Regions from separate parts of the Homo sapiens genome. Here regions 1, 3 and 4 are each reported to be linked to region 2. Evidence: microRNA targets listed by miRTarBase, many of them from high-throughput screens and not tested one by one. Region 2 holds a microRNA gene; each other region holds the end of a gene's coding sequence.
Evidence for each region. The annotated mature microRNA hsa-miR-6845-5p reads CGGGGCCAGAGCAGAGAGC and lies in region 2 at 3,898-3,916, opposite strand. An mRNA with a match to its seed (bases 2 to 7 or 8) in the 3' UTR can be bound and repressed. Matches are read on the target gene's strand: a 7mer-m8 pairs with bases 2 to 8, a 7mer-A1 pairs with bases 2 to 7 and ends in A, and an 8mer does both.

Region 1: miRTarBase lists CTXN1 as a target of hsa-miR-6845-5p. Seed matches in the 3' UTR shown: 7mer-m8 at 2,076-2,082 and 7mer-A1 at 2,441-2,447.
Region 3: the mRNA of ALDH6A1 is a reported target of hsa-miR-6845-5p. The part of its 3' UTR that is shown has no 7-base or 8-base seed match.
Region 4: the mRNA of TMEM254 is a reported target of hsa-miR-6845-5p. Seed matches in the 3' UTR shown: 7mer-m8 at 4,859-4,865.

What each region holds. Positions count from the first base shown.
Region 1 is chr19:7,921,969-7,927,108 of GRCh38, reverse strand. CTXN1 (cortexin 1) reads left to right here and starts at 974. Exons shown (of 2, transcript NM_206833.4): 1 at 974-1,142; 2 at 1,551-2,618. The coding sequence starts at 1,571. The coding sequence ends at 1,819. It overlaps SNAPC2 (small nuclear RNA activating complex polypeptide 2), which reads right to left. Exons shown (of 5, transcript NM_003083.4): 4 at 4,762-5,074; 5 at 3,859-4,664. The coding sequence ends at 4,345. It overlaps LOC124904629 (a long non-coding RNA gene), which reads right to left and starts at 1,704. Exons shown (of 2, transcript XR_007067120.1): 1 at 1,273-1,704; 2 at 299-536. It overlaps TIMM44 (translocase of inner mitochondrial membrane 44), which reads left to right. Exons shown (of 13, transcript NM_006351.4): 13 at 1-391. RefSeq lists enhancers at 1-293, 4,941-5,140 and silencers at 790-1,059, 1,590-1,679.
Region 2 is chr8:143,833,896-143,841,550 of GRCh38, forward strand. It overlaps MIR6845 (microRNA 6845), which reads right to left and starts at 3,921; the gene lies at 3,861-3,921. NRBP2 (nuclear receptor binding protein 2) reads right to left here and starts at 7,078. Exons shown (of 18, transcript NM_178564.4): 1 at 6,811-7,078; 2 at 6,212-6,334; 3 at 6,034-6,135; 4 at 5,841-5,930; 5 at 5,614-5,654; 6 at 5,419-5,513; 7 at 5,277-5,300; 8 at 5,122-5,205; 9 at 4,988-5,043; 10 at 4,785-4,880; 11 at 3,728-3,860; 12 at 3,512-3,614; 13 at 3,354-3,404; 14 at 3,144-3,279; 4 more. The coding sequence starts at 6,939. The coding sequence ends at 1,767. RefSeq lists enhancers at 2,926-3,653, 6,965-7,655 and a silencer at 6,980-7,539.
Region 3 is chr14:74,053,888-74,060,952 of GRCh38, reverse strand. It overlaps ALDH6A1 (aldehyde dehydrogenase 6 family member A1), which reads left to right. Exons shown (of 12, transcript NM_005589.4): 12 at 207-4,106. The coding sequence ends at 311. It overlaps BBOF1 (basal body orientation factor 1), which reads right to left. Exons shown (of 12, transcript NM_025057.3): 9 at 5,268-5,369; 10 at 3,973-4,047; 11 at 3,695-3,809. Among named protein-coding and RNA genes, the nearest start is that of ALDH6A1, 27 kb to the left of the region's middle.
Region 4 is chr10:80,088,803-80,096,457 of GRCh38, reverse strand. TMEM254 (transmembrane protein 254) reads right to left here. Exons shown (of 4, transcript NM_025125.4): 4 at 3,907-5,661. The coding sequence ends at 5,541. Among named protein-coding and RNA genes, the nearest start is that of TMEM254-AS1, 13 kb to the right of the region's middle.

The DNA of each region.
Region 1 (5,140 bases), not on the chromosome of region 2:
GACCTCTGGGAACAAGACTGCGGGCTCTGCCCCCAGCTCTGCCAGGACGGCTGCAAGACCAGCTGGCCCGGGAGGGGACAACGGGCTGTTGCGGGTGCGCGGCAGCTGGAGACACTCCCCCGCAGGGCCAACCCCTGCCCTGTTGCTCTGCCCTGCAGGGGTCCCGGCGCCTGGTCACCTGGGGTGCACACAGGTCACACAGTGCCAAGAGGCCCCAGGGCCCAGGGACTCCCCCCACAGCAGGGTGGGACCCGGGACCCGCGGCTCAGTGGCCCGCTAGCCACGTCAGCCAAGCCACTTTAGGTCCATTTTTTAATTTTAACAGTGCTCTTCCATCTTGTGCATAAGCCTGAGATTTGGAAAGAATAAAACACCGAATTGCAGAAGAGCAGCTACGGAGTCTGAAGTGTCTTCTCTGGCGCGGGAGTGGCCGAGGCGATGGTGGGGGTGGGAGCAGGCGGCTGCTGTGGGAGGCGGTCAAGGTCGAGTGAGGAACTGCAGCCGCAGTGGGTGGACGCCTTGCCCAGGGCTGGACCCTGAGTTGGAAGACGAGGCCAGTGACAGACAAAACTAGGGGGACTTACTCATCCCAGTGACCTGCCTGAGCTCTCTGAGAATTGAGGTCCCCAGGGCCGGGGGAGCTTGAGTGCCCATATGAGTGTTTTAGGGCCACTGAGGTCCCCCCACAAACAGGGAGTCTCGAGTGGGGTCTATCGCGGAGGAGAATGCAGGCACAGGGCAGGCTGGGGGGCCCGAAGTGCCAGGGGAGGTGGGAGTGGCAGCTGCCCACTCCCCGGCGAGGTCGTGGGTGCTCGCGGGTCCTCGGGGCTGGGGTTCCGTCCTCCCGCAGGCCCGGGCGGGGTCGCTGGCTCGCGCGCCGCTCCCTGCGCAGCCTCCGCCCCCTGCAGCCCCGCCCCCCGCGGCGGCCCCGCCCCCGTCGCCATAGGAACAGCCGCGGCGGCCCGGCTCGCGCGCTGCTTGCCTGCCTCGGTCTCCGCCGCTCCAGGGGCGGGTGGGGTGGGCTGAGCCGGAGCCCGGGCCGCCGCCGCCGCCGCCGGGGAGAGGCCGAACGCGCAGCCGGCGCGGGTCCCTGAGAGAGCGCGGCCGCCGGGCGGTCGGTCCCCGTCCGGGTCGAAGCCAGGGTGAGGGGCGCGCCGGGGCGGGGGCGGTGGGGGAGGGGGTCCCAGGCCGCCGAGAACAAAGGGAGCGGGGGCAGGGGCCGCGGGGACCGTCCCCACGCCGCGCGCCCGGGCCGCGGCCGCGCTTTCGCACCTGTTGTGTGCGGCCCAGGCCGGGCGCGGCTCCGTTTCCCGGCTCTCAGCGCCCCCACCTGCGCGCACGGCCAGAGTTGGGTCCCCGCGTGGTGGTGGCGGCGATCCGGCGGGCCGGGCATGGGCGTAGCCCGGGGACCGAGGCGCGGGCGGGGGATGGGGTCGGGCACGTTAAGGGAGGCGGCGGCGGCGGCGGCAGGAGGGGGCGAAGCGGAGGAGGCGCGGGAGGGAGGGCGCAGCCTCATCCCCGGCGCCCGGGGCGGGTCCCCTCCTCCGCAGGGCGCGCGGCGATGTGAGCCATGAGCGCGACGTGGACGCTGTCGCCGGAGCCCCTGCCGCCGTCGACGGGGCCCCCGGTGGGCGCGGGCCTGGACGCGGAGCAGCGCACGGTGTTCGCCTTCGTGCTCTGCCTGCTCGTGGTGCTGGTGCTGTTGATGGTGCGCTGCGTGCGCATCCTGCTCGACCCCTACAGCCGCATGCCCGCCTCGTCCTGGACCGACCACAAGGAGGCGCTCGAGCGCGGGCAGTTCGACTACGCGTTGGTGTGAGGGGCGCGGCGCCCCCTAGCCGGCCCTGCGCCGGGGTCTCAGAGGGCCGGCCCGGCGGGGGGCGCCGCGGGGCCAGGACTGCGCTCAGGATCCCGCCCCGGAGCCCCCAGCCCGGGGGAGAGGGGGAGGGAGTTGGGAGAAGCCCAGCCCCTCCCCCTCGAGACCCCTCCCATGTCCCTTCCTGGCCTGGCCGGAGCCCCACCTCGTGCCTTTATCCGCCCTGTCCCTTCCTCTCTGCGCATCTCACCCGCCCGGCTGGCCCCCACCCCCGACTCTGAATCCCGGGCGGGAGGAGGACCCCCGCACCGCCCCCTCCCCAGCGTGTAAGTGGCTCTGCTATTGTGCGTCCCTGGAAGTGGGGACCCCCTTGTCCCTCCTCCCTCCCCTGTTGTCTGGCCGTCGTCAACCCCACCTTGACTGAGTGTTGAGCCCGTCCTTGGGCTCTGGTCCCTGCGGGGCAGGCTCTCCCGGGCCCACGGGGCGGACGCTGCATACCAATTTGCCCTGCACCGCCTGTCCCGGAGACGGAGCCCGAAGGCCTGCCATGGCGGCTGTGTCGAGGATGCGTGGCGCCTGCCGTGGCGGGACAGCGTGGGCAGGCTCATTTCTGCCCCCAACCCGGGCCCCAGGACAGGTCAGCGCGCCCTGCCCCGGTGCCCACCGCTGCCCCCCATCCGCCCTCCTGCCACTTGCCCCTGACCCCCCTGCCGTGCCTCCCGCAGCCCTCCCATGCCGTTCCACTCCTCCCTGCCTCTGAGCCGAACATGATAATAAAAGCTATTATTGAGCGCTTACTGCATGCCAAGTAGCGTGCTGAGTTGGCACCTCCTGTTTATAGCCTGTCTCCTCTTCGGGATCGTGAGAATGAGCCAGGCCCTGTTAGCATCCCTATTCTACAGGCCAGGAGACCGAGGGCCAGGCAGCTCCAGTGACTGACTTGCCCACAGTCACATGGCTAGAGTCTGGTAGGGCTGGAAGTGGAACCCAGGTCTGGCTTTTGCATGTTTTTAAAGCTTCCCAGGGCTGCAAAGACACCAAGATCACAAGCACCTTTCACCGGCTTTGGGGGGGGGGGCTGATGTGTAACCCCCAGCTGCCTCCCCTCCACACACAATTCTGTTGATCTGGGGAGGCGCCGGGGGTGGTGAGAGAGACTCAGCCCTGTGGGGAACTGGGAGGCGCACCCTCTGCCAGCCCTGGAGGGAGGCTCCGACGACCGACCGTACCTGCAGCCTAAGCCTCCTCCCCCTGCCCACCACCATTGGCAGCGTTTGTGGGTCTGGTGCGGTGGGGCGGTGACCACGGACGGAGTGGGCTGGCTGTGCTCCAAGGCCCTCCCAAGAGATGTGCACCCCAGGGGAGCCGTGTGCAGTGTGTGGGGGGAGGAATGAGCGTTTCTATAAAAGGCAGGCTGGGTGAATGCACAGGCTCCGAGAACGGAGAATTTACCGACTTGGATTACTAGCTGGGCGTGGGACGCGGTGCCGTGGGAGGACATCTGCTTCCCTCTCTAGGACCCGACCCTCGGTCCACACCCACAGGGCAGGTGAAGCTGATGGAGGGGGCCTCAAGCGGGGTCCCAGCACCCCCAGGGGTTTGGGGTCAGCCCTGACTCCAGTACCCCTCCCTCCCCGCCTTCTAGGGATCCTTGAGGTCCCAAAGCCACCCCAGGGGACACTCCACTCCCACTAGCCTCCTGCCACTCGGGGCAGCCCACCCCTATCTATCTTCCTCTAACCGCCCAGCCTGGGGCTCAACTCCTTCCACCGGGTCACCCCCACTCTCTGCTGCCTTCTCCCCTCCACCTGTGCGATGTGATTTTGCCCTACTCTGAAACCCATCCCTGACGCCTGTCCCCAAGGTGCCCTGCCGGCTCTCCCCATCCACACTTGTCAGCTTCACAGTCACCAAGGGGCTCCTCACCCCAGGCCTCATCACACCAGTCAGGTGGCAGCTCTCCTCCCTGGCACACACCCCCAGCCCTGTGACCCCCAAGCTCTGACACTTCAGGGCCCCCACTTCCATCTTTAAGTCACAGGTGAAAGAGAAAGAGAATGATAACTTTATTCATGGTCACAGAATACCCCCGGGAAGGGGAAGGACCTGGCAGCAGGGAGTAACCACGACTGGTCAGTTGAAGAAGGTGAGGATGCTGGCCCCGAGGTGTACAGGAAGGGGGAAAATGTGCGAGGGCCTTTACGGTGGGCAGTGCCAGCTATGGCCCCCCAGCAGACAACAAGGCACAGTGGGGCTTGGGGACTGGGGGAGGCCAGCCCTGTCCGCCTGTCCTTGACATCAGGAGGCTTGTGAGTGGAGTCCTGCAACCCCCACCCAACCCCTGTACAACGGGGGTTCCATTTCTGAGACCCCCAAAGTATGGGGCATCTTAGAGGCCCGCCCCACAGCTGAGCATCATCTCAAGGACCTTCCCCCATGACGGGATCCTCAGAAAGAGCCAGGGCCAGCCGAGCAGAACCGAGGGGCAGGGCGGGGGGCCTGGTGTGGCCTCCTGCCCGCCATGCCCCTCACCTGGCAGGGGTGGCTGCCCGACCCAGAAGCTCCAGGGGCACCAGGAACGGGTTCAGGGGACAGATCCCAGCTGCTTGCCAAGGCGATTTCAGTTCGCTGTGCTCGGCCTTCTCGGTGGCTGGGGGGGTCTCCTCTGGTGCCTTGGAGCCAGCCCCATCCCCTTCTGCTGCAGGCCCCAGGCTCCCTCCAGCGGGAATGGGCTGGGGGGCTGTCAGGCGTAGGTACGTCTCCGTCATATGCTCAACCAGGGCTGTGCAGGGCAGGAGTGGCAGCTCCTCTGGAAGTGACATGAGCAGGTCGAGGACCACAGCGGACTCTAGTGATGGATGGAGGAGAGGGGTAAGGGGACACCCCTGCCTGCTGCCAGGGACCCTTGATCCCTCTGCTCCTGCCCCCTCCCTCACCCTTCTCACCAGCTGCTGAGAGCTCGGGGCTGCGGCCACTTCGGGAGACAGAGGACAAGTACTTGTAGATCTTCTCAAAGTCCACAGCAAAGTCTTCTTCAGTGGAGGGACCAGCCGACGACTCAGAAGGTTTCTCAGGGGCAGGGTCAGGAGTCCTGGGTGCGGAGCTAGGTGCAGCAGGGGCAGAGCTAGGTATTTCAGGGGCGGGGTCTTCCTGTCCTCCAGGGGCGCTCAGGAGCAAAGGCTTTCCACGGGCCTGCGTGGGCTTGGGGGGCTTGGAGTGCAGGAGGGTGACCGGTTCCGTGGCCGCGATGGTGAGCACCTGGCAGGCAGAACAATCAGGGAGGAAGAGGAGCTGGGAAGTCTTCTCACCGTCTACACATTCCCC
Region 2 (7,655 bases):
TGAGAATTTGAATAATTTTGTAAATAGTATTGGAATATTTAAGATAACTGAGATTCACGATTTTGTACCTTTAATTTATTTGATATGCGTTAGTAAGTCTTGCTTTGGTTTTTGGCTTTTGGTTGGAGTGCTGTGGTCAGCAGAATGCCACCCTTCCCCAACAAAAGAGGTTCATTCCTTAATCCCTGGAACCAGTGAATGTTAGTTTACATGGCAAAATGTGTCCTGCAGATGTGTTTAATATTAAAAACCTTGAGGAGGGAGATTATCATGTATTATCTGGCTGGGCCCAACCTAATCTCATGAGTCCTTAGGGACAACCTTTCCTGTCTGCAGGGAACCAGAGAAATGGTTCGTGACACAGACTGAACCTGCTAGCTCTGAAGATGGAGGAGGGGGCCAAGAGCCAAGGAATGTAGGCAGCCTCTACAAGCTGGAAGTGGCCTTAGTTTACAGTCAGCAAGAAAGTGGGGACCTTGGCCCTGCCACCGAAAGGATGTGGATTCTGCCAGCAGCCTGAAGGAGCAGGAGACAGAGTCTCCCCTAGAACCTCCAGGAAGGAAGGCAGCCTGCCAGCCTTGATTCTAGTCCAGTGAGACCCATAGTCAGACTTCCAGCCTACAGAATTGCAATAAATTTGTGTTAAGTCACTAAGTTTGTGGTAAATTTTACAGCGGCAGTATAAAACTAATACAGTGGTGTGCCTTCCTGGTTGACATTTGAAATGCGTTTAGAAAGGCATGAATGCGCTAATGTATACATACAGTTTAAAATGCTTAAGGCCATTTCACTAAGTTTGGAATTGGAGGAGAGGCAAGCCAAGAATCAAGAGGCCAGGAAGGCAGGGGTAGAATCCATGAGGGCATAGAAATCTCTAAGACTGAGCCAGGAGTGGAGTGGGAGAGAGGCAGGGAGCCAGGAGCTGACATCCTCAGAGGCCCAGGGAGCAGCTGCCCCAGGGAGGAGGTGCGGGAGGTAACATGGAGGGGCTGTGAGTCTGAGGAGCAGGGAGGATGTGGGGTCCCTGACGCCTCCAGGCCAGGGAATGCATGAGAGAAAAAGCCCATTGGAGGGGCTGCAGTGGCCAGAGGAGATCTGCAGAGGGGCTGCAAGTTCTGGTCTCAGGGTGGGTAAAGGGTCAAAGAGGTGGCTCTAGGGCAGAGCTGTGTGGGACCAGGGGCTTTGCTGACAACAGCCTCAACTCCAGACCTCTCTGTGGTCTGTTTCTCCTGCCAGGTCCCTGTTGTGCCCAGTGCCATGCCTGACACCTGCAGGTGTGTCACCGCTGGCTTGCTGTGCAGGCTCCTTGTGTGGGTCTATGGTGCCAGCAGGGGATGGCTGCTCTCCCAGACCCCATGGAGCAGTTCCCTGGGCAGAGGTCTGTCCAGGGCTGACCCTCACCCCCAAGCCCCAGAGCTGGGGTTCCCTACAGGGCAGCCTCCTGCATGCTGAGGAGGCAGTGGCCCCGGCCAGGCAGCCTGGGTAGGAACTCAGGGCGGAGAATGGAGGATATGGGAAGGGGTTCTGGGGGCAACCCTGATCCTAAGGACCTGGGAGGCCTAACGGCTCCCCCACACCCACCCCCCAACCCCTCGGCGCCCAAGGCAGGGTCAGCCCCACTCTCAGGAGACGGGGGGTTCCTTCACTACCGGGGCCTTTGTGCTCCCAGGCGCATGGAGGAGGGCAGCCCCACGGTGCTGGAGTCTCCCCAACATGGCCTGCCCAGGCAGCACCCCGGCATGGTCCCCTGGGGCTGGGGCTCCGGGTCAGGCCTGGGTCCCACGGTACTTGAGGAAGGTGCTCTCCAGGAAGGCGGCCAGCTTCATCCGGTCGTCCTGCGGAAGGAGGGAGGCATGGGGGACGGAGGGGCGCGGCCTGCCCCGTGCGCCCCCTCCGCCAGGCCGCGCCGCACCGCCCAGCGCACCTCGTGGAGGAAGCCATAGTGCACGAGCTCCGAGGCGAGGTCCTGGGCGCTGTCCGCTGAGGCAATGGCGTAAGGCGAGGCATGAGGCCGCTGCCCACCCGCCGCCTGGGGTCACCGCCCGCCGCCCAAGTCCCCTGCCCAGCCTACTTGGGAGCAGGTCGTAGGTCAGCTGCCGGTGCAGCCGGTCTTCCAGCACCAGAAGCAGAGTGAGCTGGGGAGGCGGCGGGGCGTGGTCGGCTGGGGGTTCAGGGCTCCGCCACGCTCCCGCCTTCCCCACGGCAGCGCCGCCCTCCCAGGCCCCGCTCACATGCCAGCGCGCCTTGTCCTCGCTTCTCTCCAGGTTGCACTGCATCTGGATGACCTGCAGCGGGGGAAGGCTGGGACTCACAAACCCAGCAGCAAGACCACATGCCGCGGCCCCAAAGGGGCCGGGAAGGGACAGCAAAGACTGGAAAGGGGGGAATCTCTAAGAGGAGCCCATCTCACTGCTAGTGGCTTGGCAAGCTAAGGAAAGCTTCGAGAAGAGTCGACATTAGGGGCTGGGTACTGAAGGCTGAATAGGAGCTTTCACCGCGGAGAGAACAACTTGAACAAAGAGGGAACTGTGGGCGTGGGGAAAGGGAGGTTGGGCGGGACAGGACCGCGCCGAAGTGCACGGTGCCTGCGGGATCAGGCCTCCCAGAGCCTGGGTGTCAGCTGAGGACTCCCATGATCTCTGCTGGCAGCCAGGAGCAGGCAGTTTGCCTGTTAGGACATGAATTCTGGCTGCACTGCACCGAGAGAGGCCCCTGGCCAGGAGGGGGTGCTGCAGGAAAAGTCTGGGGAGACACCAGGACATAGATGTCCGGGAATCAGCACCAGGTGGGGGATGGGAGGGGTGGGGGGGGTGGGAGGGGTGCGGGGGTGGGGGAAGATTGCTGGCAGGGTGGAAGAGCCCGGGTGAGTTCTGGAGGAAGGATGCTTGGAGTAGGTTCAGGGCAGGCAGCAGGATGCAGGGGAAGGATCTGAGGGGACAGGGAGCCTCCCGGAAAAGGAGAGTGCCCAGCCTGTCCTATAACCCCCATGACCCCCACAAGGGGGTCAGCCTGGATCTGGTCTCTGGCAGCCAGGAGGAGAGCTGGGCTGTGGGGATGCAGGCCCTAAGAGAAGGAGGGGCACCTCTTATCTGGCTGTTAGAAGGTCTGAGGGATGGCACTGAGCAGCAGGAGAGGGGACTCACCTTTCTGGTCTCAGAGTCAAAGGGCTCTGGCGTCGGGGTCTTGGCCTTTTGGACCTCCTCCGGGGGTGGGGCCAGCACACGGGGCAGCCCCAGGGGTCGAGTGGCTGCAAAGTTCATCAGTGGGTAGATTCCATTCCTGGGGACACAACAGGGTGGCTGGGGGTTCAGGCCTGACAGCTGCCTGGCCCCCAACCTTACATCAGTTCTCACCTGACATCCTCCAGGAATTTGTCCAGCTCCATGAAGGAGACTTCCGAGTACCTGGCATGGAAGTGGGAGGCACATGAGGGGCTGGCCGGGGCGAGGGGAGGGGAGGTGCGGGGAGGGGAGGTGTGGGGAGGGGAGGCTTCTGGGTGCTGACTGCTCACCGCCACTGCAGCGGGGGCCTGCGGGGCCGGGGAAGCTCCGCCAAGACCGCGTGCAGGTCCATGGCCTTGGTCTTCTCCTCCACCACATTCTCAGGCATGAGGTCTGCGGCCACAAGAGCATCAAGGCGGTGTGCTCAGGCCGTGGGTCCTGCAGGGCCCCTTCCACGTCCCAACCTCCACCTCCCCAGCCACCCCCCGGGCCGGCCTGCTGCTCACACTGGTGCTGGATGAAGCAGTGGGCTGCCAGGAGCTTCAGCGAGTGCACCTCGAAGAGCACGCGGTGGAAGAGGAGGCTGTGGGCAGAGGGCCGGCGGGCAGGGTCCCGGGCCAGGCAGCAAAGGATGAACTCCTGGGGCACAGGGAGGAGAGGCTGGTGGTGTGCAAGGGCTCTCTGCTCTGGCCCCGCAGTTCGAGGAGAGGTGGCCCCTGAGTTCCCCATGTCCCTCCTCAGGGACACACAGGACATGCAGGGATGCCCATAGGGAGGAGTCCCAGCAGCAGCAGCCAGGCCAGGACCTGGTCCTCTGAGCTTGAGGACAGCTGGGTTCTGGGATTGGAGCACCATGCTCTGCTTCCCTCGACCCCCAAAAAATCGTGGGGAGAAGCCATGATCCTAAAGTCACACCTGCAAGCCTCCTACCCATGGCCTTTTGATCGGCTCAGCTCGGGCCCAACACTGGAGACGACCTTGATGGGTCCCCACTCTGTCCACATCCGTGCCCAGCCCGGCTCCAGCTCGCCACCAGCCCCGACCAGGCACCCCCATCTCCTGAGGCCATGGAGTTAAGTCTAGACTCCGAGCAGAGGGGGCTGTGGATGCAGCTTCCATCCCATACCTCTTTTTGCCTGCTTGGCACCCACCATGTCCCCCCACAAGCTGGAGCCTCATCACCTCCTGGAAGCTTAAAGTCAAGGACTTGGAGTGAAGCAGACCCAGGTGCAGATGTTGGCTCCACCACTCACTCTAAAGCCTTGGGCAAAGGACTCATCTCCTCTGAACCTTGGTTTCTTTATAAAACGGGCATGGTGATGGCAGCCACAGAGGGAGGGTCTCTCTTGCCTTCTTGTCCTTAGAATGTGCTGACCCCTTAGGGCCTTCAGGCCTGGAACCAGTATGTGCTCCCACTGAGGTCCTCTTTGGGAGGGGTGCAGTCAGCTGGTATACCCCTCAACTGCACAAACTGTGATGTTCTCCCAGGTCTGCCTGGAGCACCTTGCTAGCCCTAGCTGAGCACGGTGAGCCAGCTGGGGAGGGGCAGGGCAAGCTGCTTACCCGCATGTTGGGGTCACTCAGCGAGTGCCTGGCGCGAGCAATGGCCTCCTCTGTGACCCGGGTGTCCCCATTGGTCTGGATTTCCAGTACAGCCATCTGGGGCACAGAGCCAGGTCAGGCATGGGGAAGGGACCACACAGGTGAGCCAGGCAGGGCACAGTTAGGAGGAGGGCAGAGCACAAGGTGGAGGGCGGGGGCAGTACCTCCAGCGCACACATCCCAAAGGAGAAGATGTCCACAGCGGTCCCATCGGCCACCTCTGAACAGAAGAGAGCACAGGACACGTAGGAGAGAAGCGCAGGGTAGGCACGGGGCACCCGGACCCAGCACCACTCACCTCCATACTCTGGGGGGAAGAAGTGCAGGTTCCGAAGTTCCTCTCGCTCAGCGCGGATGGGGCTTCGGAGATCATCTGGAAGTGCTGTGGGAGGGCGCAGAGCTGAGCGGGCGGGGACCTCTCCAGGACCCCGTCCCCCCAAAGTCCGCACTTACCATTGGAGAAGATTCGGTGCCACACTGCCAAGGGGCGGGAGAAAGAGTGGAGTTAGCTGCTGGGGCATCAGAACTCCTCTGCCCTTGGCTCCAGGCACCTTCCCCTGCCCCGTTCCCCCACCCAGCCCTGCCCCGCCAGCACCGGAGCCGATCTTGATGAGGCCGTTGTGCTGAATGAAGATGGTGTCGCTGGTCAGGTTCCCGTGGATGATTGGGGGGCTGCAGGCGTGCAGGAAGCTGCAGACGTTGGGGAGGGGAGAGTAGGAGGAGCCGGTCAGGAGGCTCTGGAGAGATGGGGGCTCGGTGGCGCCGCGCCCAGGCCAGCCCAGGCCCTCACCTGAGCGCAGACAGGATCTGCGTGCACCAGCGCTTCCAGGCCTGGCGGCGGACGCACGACTCCGTCGGTCGGGTGGGCGCAGGAGAGGCGGCTGGGCCTGCGGAGCCCGCCCCGCATCCTCGCCCAGCCCCTGTCCGAGGCCGCCGGGCACCCCCTCACCATCCCAGTCCCCGAGGCTGCCCCAACCCCGTCCTGTCCCCGTGGCTGCCCCAGCCCGCTCCCCATACCCGGGCGTTCATGGCCTTGTGGTTCTTCTTGGTCTTTTTGAGGAATTGCTTGAGGCTGCCTGATGACACGTACTCTGTGATGAAGATGACCTGCACGGTGCGAGCTCAGGATTTCCACCAGCTGCGGGTTCGTCCCCATGCCCGCCCCACCTAGCTGTGGTCTCTGCCTGCCCGGGGCCTTGCCCGTGCTCACCCTCGCGCAGGCCTCAGAGGTATCCAGCCAGTACTTGTGCAACTTCACGATGTTCGGGTGGTCCACCAGCACCAGCTGCTCGAACACGGTCTGGATCTTCTCCTGGGGAGGGAGGGTGGTCGCTGGGTGGTCAGCAGGTGGTCACCCAAGCAGGATGAGGAGGGGGCAGCGGTCTCACCTCGTGCGCCGCGAAGGCCTTCCTGTCTCCGAAGTGGAGCTCGTTCCACACCACCTCTACCCCCTCCTCCGTGTCCATGGCTAGGAAGGTGCTCTGAAGCCCTGGCATGTTCCCTTGGTTTACCTGGGGGTGAATAAAGGGTTATGTGTGCCCTGGTGTGTGTCAGGGTTGTGGGTGAGGATTTGGTCCCTGTCCACACCTTTCCAGTGGGCCCAAGCGTGGGCTGCAGGCCCTGAGCCACTCTGCGGGAAGGTGGGGCTTGGAGGGTAGCTGCCCCCAGGAGCCAAGGGCTCCTATCCAAGGGCTGGGCTAAGGGGATTTGGAGCAGGTTTCAGGGGGTCGAGGGGGATCCCCAGGAAGCTAGCGGCTGAGTCCAGAGGCATGGGGAGGTGGTCCTGGGAGGAGACTGGCCCTCAGGGAGTCCCAGGGCGAGCGCCAGGCCAAAGGGGTCCAGGGGTGGCTGATTCGCGGGCCGCGAGGGGCCGCGGAGAGGTTTCCAGCCGCCGCGCTCTCCCAGCGCCCCCACGCCCCGCGCAGCCTCCAGGCCCCTCCCGCTCTGGGAGGGCGGTGTCACCCCGTGCCCCAACCCCCGCGCCCACCTGCTCCCGTCGCTTTTGCCAGCGACCACACGGGCTTTCCTCCAGGATGTCGCTCTCGTCCTCGCTCTCGTCCTCCCGCTCCCGCTCCCGTTCCCGGGCCCGCCTCGGCGCCGGCTCCGGGGCCGCCATGGTTCGGCCAGCCCAGGCCACCGCCCTCTGCGCGATCCGCCGCCGGCGCAGCCTCTCCCGGCCCGCCCTGGCCTCGCGCCCAGCAGCCCAGCCTAGAGCCGCCGCGGCAGCCTAGAGCCCCAGCCCCGGCTCTGGGAATTGGGAGGCGCGGGCGCGCGGCGGACGGGCGGGGCCCGGGGGCGGAGCCGGCGCGCACCTCCCGAGCCGCCTGTGCCTGCCGGAGCCAGAGCAGAGCTTCCCCGAGAGCTGCCGAGCCCGGGCCGCGCCCAGGCCCCGCCCCCCCGGAGGCCCCGCCCCGCGAAGCCCCGCCCCAGTCCCTGTTTCCTCCTCGTCTCCCAGGCCTGCTCCGCGAAGCCCCTCCCCAGGCCCTGTCCCCTCCTCGTCCTCCAAGCCTCCTTCGCGAAGCCCCGCCCCAGGACCCGCCCCACCCCCGCGAATCCCCGCCCCGTTTTAGTCCCCGCCCCCGCCCGTTCCCAGGGTCCTCCGCGAAGCCCCACCCCAGGCCCCGCCTCACCTCCTCGAAGCCCCGCCCCTATGAGGCCCCGCCCCGCGCAGAGGAACCGCCCCCAAATCCCCGCCCCCTCGGAGGCCCCGCCCTGCGGACACCTGGAGCCCGGAGCGCCCACTTCTCTCGCGGTTGCTCCCCTAGGATCTGGGGGAAGACCCGGGGCATCTGGGGGCCCCCAAGCCCACGGCACCCTCCAGCTGCAGAAGAC
Region 3 (7,065 bases), not on the chromosome of region 2:
GCTAAGGTTTGATTGTTTACTATCTGCCAGGTATTATGTTAAATGTTTTAGATCAATTATCTTAGGAACAATATATATTGGATTCTGATTGCATTTCTCAATTAGGAAAGTGAGTAGCACTTTATAATACCTCCTTCAAAAGCTAATTAAAAGAAGAATCATGAAACCCCAGAAATATATGCTAACTTTTTTTCTGTTTTCCTTAGGGCATCCAATTCTACACTCAGTTAAAGACCATTACTTCTCAGTGGAAAGAAGAAGATGCTACTCTTTCCTCACCTGCTGTTGTCATGCCTACCATGGGCCGTTAGAAACAAGTTTGTTTAAGACTGACTCCATCCTGAGTAATCTCCCTTTATTTTTGACCAGCTTCATTTGTCAGCTTTGCTCAGATCAGATCGATGGGATTGGAATACATTGTAACTAAAATCTTCCTCAGGACTATTAACCCCCGCAAAGTTTCTATAGGGAACTGCCTAGTGTAACAATGAAACCAGATTTCTCACTTGCTCTTCATACTTCTATTTTGAGGTAACTGTTGTAACTATGAAATGCTTATCTGAAAGTAGTGCTTAAACCTGATTTCTAAAAATTATCCCATTTTCTGATGATTTGAAGGGGAGAAAAGCCAGTGTATGTAAAGAAAATGTTCCAGCCAGGCGCGGTGGCTCACGCCTGTAATTCCATCATTTTGGGAGGCCACAGTGGGCAGATTGCTTGAGCCCAGGAGTTGAAGAACGTGGCGAAACCCCGTATCTATTATTTAAAAAAATTGAAAAAGTAAAAAAAGAAAAGGGAAAAAAAATTTTTTAAAGAAGATGTTCCAATAATTGCAAGAAGAACTCTTAGATGGGGAAACAGGACAGAAATAACTCACCGCTTTTGGTTGATCCTCAAACATAGCGCTACCTAAATGCCACTGGGAGAGACCTCCTGCAAAGTTTTCTTTAGCCCCTCTTTTATCCCACAATACACAAGATATAATCCATTTTTATATATCCCAAAGTTGTGGCAACAGCTTCTTTCTTTTCTGCTCAATGCCACTTTGTTTCCTAGTAATTCATGACCACTATTAATTCTATCATTGTCACTGCTCCTGCTTAAGATCACTTCTCAAGGATACCTCAGTAAGCAATGGATAAATCAACTTTTTGTTATATGTGCCAAGTACTAAGTTTCAGGGTTCTCTTCAGCAATCATTAATTAATACTTCAGCCATTAATTCAGATGCAAATAATTTTCTTTTTTCTTTTTTTTGAGATGGAGTTTCACTCTTGTTGCCCAGGCTGGAGTGCAATGGCGTGATCTCAGCTCACCGCAACCTCCGCCTCCCAGGTTCAAGCGATTCTCCTGCCTCAGCCCCCCTAGTAGCTGGGATTACAGGCATGCGCCACCACACCCAGCTAATTTTGTATTTTTAGTAGAGACGGGGTTTCTCCGTGTTGGTCAGGCTGGTCTCGAACTCCTGACCTCAGGTGATCCGCCTGCCTCGGCCTCCCAAAGTGCTGGGATTACAGGCATGAGCCACCACACCCAGCCAGATGCAAATAATTTTCTTAGAAAATTATTTCAAAAGTTATTTTAGGCCCAGAAATCAAGGATTGTTCCAACCATGAAAATGGGTAAGACACCTGCCTTAAGCAAATCTAACCTGCTATTACTTGCCAAATTTTATATATTCTTTTCTCTTGCCTGTATTTCTAATTAGTGATTTGTTTAATGAAGAACTCTTCATGTAGAGCAATTAACTGGGCCTAAGAAATTTCGAAGCTTTCCATGACATAAAGTGGTTAAAAAAAAATGCTTTGACAGTCTTCTTCTGCCATTAGTTCAACTGCCTTTACGCTTTTTTTTTTTTTTTTTTTTTTGAGATGGAGTTTCACTCTTGTTGCCCAGGCTAGAGTGCAATGGCGTGATCTTGGCTCACTGCAACCTCTGCCTCCCGGGTTCAAGCAATTCTCCTGCCTCAGCCTCCTGAGTAGCTGGGATTTCAGGCATACGCCACCATGCCTGGCTAATTTTGTATTTTTAGTAGAGACAGGGTTTCTCCATGTTGGTCAGGCTGGTCTCGAACTCCCGACCTCAGGTGATCTGCCTGCCTTGGCCTCCCAAAGTGCTGGGATTACAGGTGTGAGCCACCACCCCCAGCCGCCTCTATGCTTTTTGTTTCTTTGATATATCTAAACTTAAGGTCAGAACAGAAATTCATGTGCTGAACAGAATGGATTCTTTTTGCAGTACCAATCCAATTGAATCCTCTTTTTATTTTCCTGCGTCCTTACCAGTCACTTTGATAGTGCTAACTAACCTACACTATGGGGGTTATTCATGAATTAAGTATGATAAAAAAAAAAAAGACCTTGAAAATGTTGTGTACCCTGTGGATTTGAGGCTTATTACTACCACCTGGCTGGATAAAATGTCAAAACCTTCAATCACTTAAGGTGACTGGAACTTTTGTAAAATACACTTATGATCCTACTGGGCCTTTTTTTTTTTTTTTTCTGCTTTCCTAAATATGAGGCAATAGAAATTTATAATTTGAGACTACAGTACCCCTTGTTTTAGCTCTTATCACAGCTGGCAACTGGTAGTGATTTTTTTTGTTGTTGTTTTGTTTTGTTTTGAGATGGAGTCTCGCTCTGTTGCCCAGGGTGGAGTGCAGTGGCACGATCTCGGCTCACTGCAACCTCCACCTCCTGGGTTCAAGTAATTCTCCTGCCTCAGTCTCCCGAGTAGCTGGGATTACAGGTGCATGCCCCCACACCCGGATAATTTTTTGTACTTTTAGTAGAGACAGGGTTTCACCATGTTAGCCAGGATGGTCTCAATCTCCTGACCTAATGATCCGCCCACCTCGGCCTCCCAAAGTGCTGGGATTACAGGCGTGAACCACCGCACCTGGCCCTGGTAGTGATATTTAATCCAATCCAACAACTATAGGCTGGGTTAAATAAAAGGTCATTATTGTCTATATTCCAAGTGGAATTAAATGTAGTCACAGAGATTCCTAACATTTTCCTTATATTTAAGGGAAATCACTTCTAAAAAAACACACTAATCAGAACTGTGATGCTCTAATTAGAAACAACTCATCTGGCCAACTATTTGCTGCTCAGAGTTTCTTATTTCTTAGATGAAAAAAACTCATCAGTTATATTCATGTGATCGCGGCTAAAAAGTCAGTATTTTCTTTTTGTTCTAATGTGGCTTCATTTGAAATTTCTCAGATTCTACATTGTACTAATTATGAATAACAAATTATAAATTAAAAACTCTTAAAGAGAAAAACTTGGCTTAAAAAAATCATTTCATATCTCCTTATAAGCCTTTGTCCTCTAGGTTGTAATGACTCTGACTTCCCACCTGTGATGGAAAGCTAAGAGTCACAAGGTCACTATGTTTACTCTTACGTAAAAGATAGTACACATTTTGGCTAGGCTGTTTACTTCAAAAGGCAACCTATAGGTTTCTACACAAAAAGAGGCACACATTTGCATTTGCATTAGTATAATATGCATTTGTACGGATATTGCTTTAAAAATTTATGTAATCTACTAATGCTATTTATTACTCATTCCACTGATCCCTGAAGTCTCTCAACTAGTAGAGAAAATAACCGTGATTTAGCAAGAAGCGACATGGGGAAGGGTGACAACAATATACATTGTTTGATTAGATACAGACTCCTTACTGTGTCAGACTCCTGAGGTTCTTTTGGAATAGTGGGTAGCACCACTTCACCAGAAGAGTCTGATATTGCAATTTGCTGGGTGATGAAGATTTTATCTTGAAGCTTACTTTCATCCCTGCAATAATGACAAAATAACAGAACCGTCAACAACTCTACACACATGAAACCTGGTTTAGAATAACAGACTTGTCATATTACTTTCAATTAGCACATTCAAGATGCCCACAAGAACCATCGTGTTGGGCTCATGTTTATTACTTAAGCAAGAGAGCTCTTACCCAAATTCCTTTGTTTCCCCACTGTCAGAAACAACATAGTCTGGAACTGGAGGCCTAGAACTCTGGTTGTATTTCCTGTAGTGGGTAAAAGTCAACAAAGATAATGAATGAGGCAGTGTCTCCTCATGCCTTCATATTTTCTTTTTGTATTTTAATTTTTTTTTATTTTTTATTTTTGTGGGTGATAGTAGGTATACGTATTTGTGGGGTACGTGAGATGTTTTGATACAGGCATGCAATGTGAAATAATCACATCATAGAGAATGAAGTATCCATCCCTTCAAGTATTTATCCCTTGTGTTACAATCCAATTACACTCTTTTAGTTATTTTAAAATGTATAACTGGCCAGGGGCAGTGGCTCATGCCTGTAATCCCAGCACTTTGGGAAGCCGAGGTGAGTGGATCATCTGAGGTCAGGAGTTTGTGACCAGCCTGGCCAACATGGTGAAACCCTGTCTTTACTAAAAATACAAAATTAGGGCCGGGCACAGTGGCTCATGCCTGTAATCTCAGCACTTTAGGAGGCTGAGGCGGGCAGGTCACCTCAGGTCAGGAGTTCGAGACCAGCCTGGATAACATGGTAAAACTCCATCTCTACAAAAAAATACAAAAATTAGCCAGGCATGGTGGTGGCCCCTGTAATCCTAGCTACTCGGGAGGCTGAAGCACGAGAATCACTTGAACCAGGAGGCAGAGGTTGCAGTGAGCCGAGATTACATCACTGCACTCCAGCCTGGGCAACAGAATGAGACTCCTTCTCAAAAAAAAAAAAAAAAAAAATTAGCCGGGCGTTGTGGCACATGCCTGTAGTCCCAGCTACTCAGTAGGCTGAGGTGGGAGGATCACTTGCACCTGGGAAGTGGAGGTTATAGTGAGCTGTGATTGTGCCACTGCACTCTGGCCTGGGTGACAGAGTGAGACCCCATCTCAAAAAAAAAAAAAAATACTTATCTTTGCAAACCAATAAAATCTTAATATTGTTATGTTTCTCTTCAGTTGCCACTCATTCAGCTGAGCAATATTGTAACTTCTTAATAAGCACTACCTTAAACATCTAAGATGAATCTTTCCCCTCCCCCTTTAATTCCAACTCATCTTTCATTTTCATGCTCATTCATTAATCTCCCATTCTTTATCTCTGGGAGCTGCAGTAGTTAAGCAGTAGGGCCTTTTTATATTTTCTGGTCCTTTCCCGTCCCTTTAGTTCTAAGTAAGAAAAATAAGTTCTTTGTTCCTAAGTGGTTTCTAGATTTGATAACAACTTGGTATTTCACTGCAGAAATAGGGAGTTACCTAGAAGGACAGCCATTCATTTTTGCAAAGAGCAATCGCAATACTTTTTCCTTCTGCTCCCAGGTCAAATCTCCAATATCCACATTTCCTTCAATATGTGTCCTAAAGAATTTCAAAGGAAAAAAATGTGAAAAGGAAAAATACGGTCAAATAGGCTTCTCTTCTTTTTAAAAAATATATAATGGGTAAACATAGGATAAATTCCACACCATAATTGAATATTATGAAACAACTACAGGCCAGGCGCGGTGGCTCACACCTGTAATCCCAGCACTTTGGGAGGCCGAGGCGGGTGGATCATCTGAGGTCAGGAGTTCGAGACCAGCCTGGACAATGTGATGAAAGCTCGTCTCTACTAAAAATACAAAAATTAGCTGGGCATGGTGGCAGCTGTCTGTAATCCCAGCTACTCGGGAGGCTGAGGCAGGAGAATCGCTTGAACCCAGGAGGCGGAGGCTGCAGTAAGCTGAGATCGCGCCACTGTGCTCCAGCCTGGGAGAAAAGAGTGAAACTCCGTCTCAAAAAAAAAAAGAAAGAAAAAAAGAAAACTACAAAGCAAACTATCCATCACAAAATCATAAAGTTGATAAGGACAACAATATACTAGCCAATCCGAAATGTTACATATCATAAAGATGAAAATGACAAAAACTTTAACAACATGAAAAAATATTTGTGCTCAGACATTAAGGAAATAAGCAAAGTAGAAAACTCTAAGGAGGCTGGGGACGGTGGCTTACCCAACACTTTGGGAGGCCAAGGCGGGCAGATCACAGGTTAGGAGTTCGAGACCAGCCTGGCCAACATGGTGAAATGCCGTCTCTACTAAATATACAAAAATTAGCTGGGCATGGTGGCAGGCTCCTCTAATCCCAGCTACTCAGGAGGCCGAGGCAGGAGAATCGCTTGAACCTGGGAGATGGGAGGTTGCAGTGAGCCGAGATCACTCCACTGCATTCCAGACTGGGTGACAAAGCAAGACTCCTTCTCAAAAAAAAAAAAAAAAAGAGCCTGGGTGCGGTGGCTCACACCCGTAATCCCAGCACTTTGGGAGGCTGAGGCGGGAGGATCACAAGGTCAGGAGTTCGAGATCAGCCTGACCAAAATGGTGAAACCCCATCTCTACTAAAAATACAAAAATTAGCTGGGCATGGTGGTGGGCACCTGTAATCCCAGCTACTCAGGAGGCTGAGGCAGGAGAATCACTTGAACCTGGGAGGTGGAGGTTGCAGTGAGCTGAGATCGTGCCACTGCACTCCAGCCTTGGCAACAGAGCGAGACTCCGACTCAAAAAAAAAAACAACAAAAAAAACTGTAATGTAACATTATTTATTTAGAGACACAGACAAAGGGAACAAGAAAAAAAAAGTTGTTTAGGCCAGGTGCGGTGGCTCACACCCGTAATCCCAGTAATTTGGGAGGCCAAGGTGGGTGGTTCATGAGGTCAGGAGATCAAGACCATCCTGGCTAACATGGTGAAACGCTGTCTCTACTAAAAATACGAAAATTAGGCTGCGCGCAGTGGTTCACACCTGTAATACTAGCACTTTGGGAGGACGAGGCGGGCGGATCACGAGGTCAGGAGATCAAGACTACCCTGGCTAACATGGTGAAACTCTGTCTCTACTAAAAAATACAAAAAAATTAGCCGGGCATGGTGGCAGGAGCCTGTAGTCCCAGCTATTTGGGAGGCTGAGGCAGGAGAATGGCTTGAACCCTGGAGGCAGATCTTGCAGTGAGCCGAGATTGTGCCACTGCACTCCAGCCTGGGTGACAGAGCGAAGACTCTGTCTCAAAA
Region 4 (7,655 bases), not on the chromosome of region 2:
TTCCCAAAGTAATTTATACATTCAATGCTGTCCCCATCAAGCTACCACGGACTTTCTTCACAGAATTGGAAAAAACTACTTTAAACTTCATATGGAACCAAAAAAGACCCGCATAGCCAAGTGAATCCTGGGCAAGAATAGCAAAGCTGGAGGCATCATGCTACCTGACTTCAAACTCTACTACAAGGCTACAGTAACCAAAACAGCATAGTACTGGTACCAAAACAGACATATAGACCAATGGAACAGAACAGAGGCCCAAGAAATAACACCACACATCTACAACCATCTGATCTTTGACAAACCTGACACAAACAAGCAATGGGGAAAAGAGTCCCTGTTTAATAAATGTTGTTGGAAAACTGGCTAGCCATATGCAGAAAACTGAAACTGGACCCCTTCCTTACACCTTATACAAAAATCAACTCAAGATGGATCAAAGACTTAAACGTAAGACCTAGGACCATAAAAATCCTAGAAGAAAACCTGGGCAATACCATTCAGGACATAGGCATGGGCAAAGGCTTCATGTCTAAAACATCAATTCTTTTAATGATGAAACTGAGGTACAGAAACAAACTTGTCTAAAATCCTGTGGCTAGAGCCAGGTTAAATCCCATGCTTCAGCCTCAACTAGTAGGGTAATACTTTCTGATTTTTAAGTGTGTCAAATGTATCCCTAGTATGCATGGTATTTTAGGTAATAATTATCCTTTCTTCTCGTACGTATTAGAAAAAATATAATGAACAAACCAAGCCTGGGACTTCATAGTTATTCTTGTTTAGGAATTTTTTTTTTTAAGTGAATTTCTGGCCAGGTGCAGTGGCTCATGCCTGTAAACCCAACACTTTGGGAGGCTGAGGCCGGCAGATCATTTGAGGTCAGGAGTTTGAGACCAGCCTGGCCAACATGGTGAAAACCCATCTCTACTAAAAATACAAAAATTAGCCGGGTATGGTGATGGGCACCTGTAATCCCAGTTACTTGGGAGGCTGAGGCAGGAGAATCGCTTGAACCTGGGAGGTGGAGATTGCAGTGAGCCGAGATCACGCCACTCAACTCCAGCCTGGACAATACAGCAAGACTCAGTCTAAAGAAAAAAAAGTGAATTGCTTTAAATAATAAATAATAAATTCAGATGGAGTGTAGACATGATTAAAGTTGTGGAGGTGGCCTCTATGTGCTTGAGATTTAGGGAACTGTTCCCTACCTTATATTATAGATGCTATTCCTCTTATTTATAACAATGTTAAGATTTCATCAATTTTAGTAGCGATTCATCCTGTGCAATGTATTAATACAAGGAAAAGGTAAGTAAAAGTTATTTCATGAATATTTTCCTCAACAGCATTTGTCTTTCTTACTTTTAAAAATTACTTTTCCATTTCCCACACCAATGTAACTGAACAGTATTCATTGTATACCAAAAGTATTTCCCTTAATCCAACATTATGACTTACTACAAATAGAAATGAGGCATTTTTATAATCCTTTATAAAAACTTGGAAGCCATCTTAAAATGTTTCACAGAAATTGCAAATACAGTATTTTGAATAGGGTTTTCAAATGTTTACTGGGGATTCGGAGCACAAATCTCCTTTTGAAGAAGAGAAATGTGAACATTAAAGACTCTTATTGTCCAGTGTGGATGAAAACAGAAACATAATTCACAATTTGTTGCGGACAAGGAGCCTGGCAGAGAGAACGTTTCCATGGTCTTACAAGGGTATTACCCACCTACCCTACTAGCATTTTTTTTCACTGTGCTGACAAGAAAGGAAAAATACTCACAACCAGGTTGCTAAACTAAGAGCTTTAATTAATGAGACTCCAGAAAGGGCCCTAGCAAGATAAAAATTTGATTGCACTGTGTTCTCTGACCTCAACTGCAGGTTCTCTGACTTCTCTTTTGTGTTTGTTTGTAGACCTTCAGTGTAAAGATATAAGGGCTCTCTGAGATGGCAAGCTGTTTTGCAAAGAAGCCTCTTCACACATCTGGAATATAACCTCTTAAACCTAACCCAGGTTTATGTTAACACCATGGCTCATAAACCATGCTTAGACTGCATGGAACCATAAACATGTTGAATGTAGGAAACACGGTTAGTTTATAAATTGGGCCTGCTATTAAGTTCTGAGGTCATTAGTTTTTTTTTTTTTTTTTTTGGTCCTTTCTTTTTATTTTTCCAAACTATACGTGCTTTGGAAATCTAAGGGGTGGGTAAGAAAACAGTTTAGTCTGTTTTTTTTCCATGGTTGCTTCCACCAAGATGCCTCTGGCCTTTTCTCATCCAAATGCAACATAAAGCTCTTTCTCGCATATCACCACCATGACTACCACACAAAGCCAAGATGTCTCCATTTTTAAATTTTTTGCTTCACAGACTTACTACTAAACTCAGGGGTGATGGGGGAGGTGGCAACATGAGGCCCAGAATCATGCATCTCTGTGTGATATTGGGTAAGTTACTTCACCTCGCTGAGATGTTTATGGGTCTATGAAAGGAATGATCTGCATCATTTGCTCACTAGATCCCCCTTTACATCTAAGCCATGATAATACTCCAAATAAGATGATAGGATTTTATACAGGCGTGCCTGTGTATTGACCTTTTTGAGTTGGAGTCTTGCACTGTTGCCCAGGCTGGAGTGCAGTGGCATGATCTTGGCTCACTGCAAGCTCCGCTTCCCGGGTTCATGCCATTCTCCTGCCTCAGCCTCCCGAGTAGCTGGGACTACAGGCGCCTGCCACCATGCCCGGCTAATTTTTTGTATTTTTAGTAGAGACGGGGTTTCACCATGTTAGCCAGGATAGTCTCGATCTCCTGACCTCATGATCTGCCCGCCTCGGCCTCCCAAAGTGCTGGGATTACAGGTGTGAGCCACCACACCCGGCTGCATATTGACGTTTTGATCAATCACAGACAGCACATATGACACTGGTTCCATAGGATTGGAACACATTTTTACAGTATCTTTTCTATGTTTAGCTATTTTTTTTGTTTTGCTTGAGACGGAGTCTCACTCTGTTGCCCAGGCTGGAGTGAAATGCTACAATCGCAGCTCACTACAACCTCTGCCTCCTGGGTTCAAGCAATTCTCCTGCCTCCTGCCTCAGCCTCCTGAGTAGCTAGGATTACAGACACCTGCCACCATGACTGGCTAATTTTTGTATTTTTAGTAGAGACGGGGTTTCACCATGTTGGCCAGGCTGGTCTTGAACTCCTTACCTCAGGTGATCTGCCTGCCTCAGCCTCCCAAAATATATATATATATATATATATATATATATATATATATATATTTTTAATCCCATCCTAAAGAAAAGCTAGTACACAAATGCTTACCACTGTGTTACAGTTACCTTCAGTATTCAGTACTACTCTACATGCTGTACAGGTTTGTAGCCTAGGGGCAACAGACTGTATCATATAAACTAGGTGTGTAGTCGGCTCTACCATTTGGTTTGTGAGTACACCCTATGATATCTGCACAACAATGCACTCACCTAATAGTGCATTTCTCAGAAGGCATCCCCATTGTTAAGTGATGCATACCGGACTTCATGCATTTAAAAAAATGCCAGAACACTCCTTACTTAGTGCATAGACTTTATCAAATGTTGAATAAAAACAGAAACAAAAAGGAGACAATCCTACAATGAAAAGGAGACACTCAGGTCCACCCTAGTGATTCCTTGTATGTGGAGGAGGTAAGTGGGACATGGACAGTTCTAAAATATAGTACGTATATACCCGACAACCACAGTGTTTTGCATTTCTTTATCAGTGAAAAACAAACTGATATCTGAAGTGTATAAACAGTTCCCTAGTAGTCTATTTGAGAAAAAGTATCAAATGTGCATCAATATGTTAAAACTGACAAATACAAGAAAAGCATTCAGCTAGAGAAAATTCACAGCATTTTATTCAAGTTAATCAATTTCATTCAATAATCTGCCATATTGTTCCCAGCACCACTATTACTGTTATTATTTCTCTTTGAGGAAGACCAGGTATTAAGAAATCTGGTTTGAATTTCCATGATGCCTAACTCTATGGTTAAAAATCCTTTTCCTTACCAAAAAGGAACTTCTTAATCACCAGAGAAACAGAGGGAAGACTGAGATATGTTTGCAGAAATTTATCTCTACCAGAGACAATTCATAGTTCATAATCTTTCAGGGTTGTGCTTTACTTGGGGGCTCCGTTTTCGGGAGCGGGTTGTTTCCCATAAATGTTTGCTTAATACAAATAATTTGCCCCACTGTACCACAGAAGGGAAATGAGGGCTAGTGTCCCCAGAAAGCAAGCAGGCAGTCCTCCAGGGAAGAAGCCCTAATGGCTCCTAGTGGTGACAGAGTCATTCTGCCTCCCCAGCCTGTGAGCAATAATAAAGTATAACTAAGTGAACAGGAGAGGTAATAACTAGCCAGATAACCCATGGGCTAGAATCTCTAAACAGAAATGCTTGTGTTTTGAATAAATCAGAGCTGGAAAGACACACTTTTGGAGAAGTGATTGAGAATAGAAAGGTATGAAAAAGATAAAGGTTTCTCACCAACGAAACCACAAAAAAGGTGGTACCAGTCAAAGGTAGACTTGGGCTTTTATTTTGGGGTGAGGGTACCCCAAATGGGTTGTGCCATTTTCACATAAAAATTGGAATGATAATGAACAAGTGAAAGTGAAATCAGTTTCCCTCCTTTGTTCAATAAACATGGTTAGAGCACCTGTGTGCAAGATAGTGGGACAGGTGCTGAGGGGAAAGGTAAAGCTGTTTAAGCTGTGGCCCTGAGCTGAAGGAGCAATCTAGCAGTGCCATCAGGCCCTGCACACTGCAGAGCACAGTGTCCCAGGGGCCAGGTGGAGGGAAGGATCACTTCCGGCTGCAGCATCAGGGAAGGCACTCTGCAGTCTCCCCTCCAGGTTCTCAGCGTGCCTCTATGCCTGTGTGACTGCTCAGCCTGCCCCATTCCAGGCACTTGCTCATCTTCCTTATCTTTCTCTGTAGCATGAGAAATGGAAGTTTGAGAGGATAGGATCCTACCTCACAGGTACCTAATAAATGTGTGTGGAATTGACATATAGTGGAAGTGTCACTTTATCTTAGTGCAGCAAGGTGGAAAGAGCTTTGGAAAGGAGAGGAAAGATGGTGGTTGTGAGGGTAAGGTGTTTTCATCAGAAGGCGGGAGCAAGGGTATACAAACCAAAAAGTCAGTTTAGTATGTGGCTTAGCTCAGAGCACACGAGGGTACCAACACAGCCAAAGACTGTAAGAAGGTAGCTGAAGTCCTCTGCCAAATAGGATTGAAAAGCTAAAATCTTTCTCTGTTTCTTTCTTAAGTAACAACTGGTCTATTCAAGCTCAACCAGAGCATATAAGAGAAAAAACTGACTAACGAGGGGGTCTTAAAGAGCTTTGAAGGACAGTTTCTAGAAAGTAGAAAGATCACTGAGTAAATTACTGCACCTCCTCTACCCCACAAAAAAAAGGGTGAGGATGAATGTAAAAGTGTAGAGCAAGCTTTCAGACAACTTCAAGTTTGTTTTTGGCGCTTCCGTTTGTAAGCAATCAAGATGGTGAGAGACGCTATCCCAAAGAAGAAAGTCTGTAGGAACCAGAGTAGCTGAGCCCGACCACTTGTGATGCCTTTATGCCTAAAACAGAAAAAACAAAATTTAAACACGAGATGTTAATCTTACAGTTTCATGGGAGTTATTGTCTTCTATATATATATTTTTTAAATTATACCTTCCACTACTTTCATTGGGTTTATTTTGCTGCTTTTCTCTGGCTTATCTTGGATGGTTCATTTATTTTTCATCTTTCTTGTTTTCTAACAAATGTATTTTGGATGGTAAACTATTCCCTGAGAACTAGTCTGGCTACTGTCTAGGGCACAGTATTATAAGACTGTTTCTCATGTGATTCTGATGAGCGGATGGAGTAAAAAGCACTGGTATGGTTTCAGAGCAAATGTTTTGCAAATAGACCAGATATAAATCCTAGCGTGGCTACCTACCAGCTGTGACCTGGGCAAATCACTCAGAATCTCTCAGAATCAGTTTTCTCATCTGAAAAACAGGAACAGCAGTAGCTATCTCACTGAGTCAGTTGAGATGATTTATGGGATAATACACACAACATGCTCAGGAAGGAGCCTGGCACACAGTCATGATAAACACCTGCTTATATTGTCATTCAAATTCAACTGCCTAAAATGAAGTGCAAAAAAAAGATGACCCAATGGAAGGGAATGGCTTGCTACAGTCTCATCTGTACATAAATAAGTCTCACTTGGATGACTTTTATTTAAAACAAACTTTAAAAACAATATATGTAAAAGCAATATAATTTTCTACAGTAACAGATTAAAACAGAAAGATCATATGAATATCTTAATAAATGCAGAAGTGGCATTTGACAAATTTCTTTTTTTTTTTTTTTTTGAGATGGAGTCTCGCTCTGTCACCCAGGCTGGAGTGCAGTGGCGCGATCTTGACTCACTGCAAGCTCTGCCTCCCGGGTTGATGCCATTCTCCTGCCTCAGCCTCCCGAGTAGCTGGGATTACAGGAGCCCGCCACCACGCCTGGCTAATTTTTTGTATTTCTTTAGTAGAGATGGGGTTTCACTGTGTTAGCCAGGATGGTCTCGATCTCTTGACCTCGTGATCCACCCACCTCGGCCTCCCAAAGTGCTGGTATTACAGGCGTGAGCCACCACGCCCGGCTGCATTTGACAAATTTCAACATCCATTCTTTTTCCAACCCCCCCAGAGATGGGGTCTCACTCTGTCACCTACAGTGGAGTGTACTGGTACAATTATAGCTCACTGCAGCCTCAAACTCCTGGGCTAAAGCTATCCTCCCACCTTAGCTTCCCAAGTAGCTGGGATCATCACAGGCACGCACCACCATGCCTGGCTAGGTTTTTTGTTTGTTTTTTGTAGAGACAGTGTCTTGCTTTGTTGCCCAGGCTGGTCTTGAACTCCTGGCTTCAACTGATTCTCCCACCTCAGCCTCCCGAAGTGCTGGGATTACAGGTGTGAGCCACCTGCATCCACATCCAACATCCATTTTTAATAAAACTTCTCAGCAAAGTTAGAAATACAATGGAACTTCCTAATTTTGACACAGGAGATCTACAAAACTCTATAATAAACATGATGCAAAATGTTGAAAGTTCTCCTTTGAGGTCAAGAACAAGGCACACTTCTAGTCAGCACTGCTGGAAGTTCTAGCTAGTAGAATAAGGGAAGAAACATAAATAAAAGGTATACAGAATTGAAAGAAAGAAATAAAACTGTATTTCTGGACAGTTTTATACCTAAAAACTGAAAATAATCTATAAACTGTTACAATTAATAAATTTATTTAGCAAGATTGCTGGGTATAAGGTCAATATAAAAAATTGACTATATTCATACAAAGTACCATCAGACAATTAGAAAATGAAATGAAACAAAGGGAGCCAAGATCATGCCACTGAACTCCAGTCTGGGCGACAGAGCTAGACTCCATCTCAAAAAACAAAAACAAAAACAACAACAAAAGTTGGCCAGGTGTGGTGGCTCAGGCCTGTAATTCCAGCACTTTGGGAGACCGACGCAGGTGGATCGCTTGAGCCCAGGAGTTTGACATCAGCCTTGGC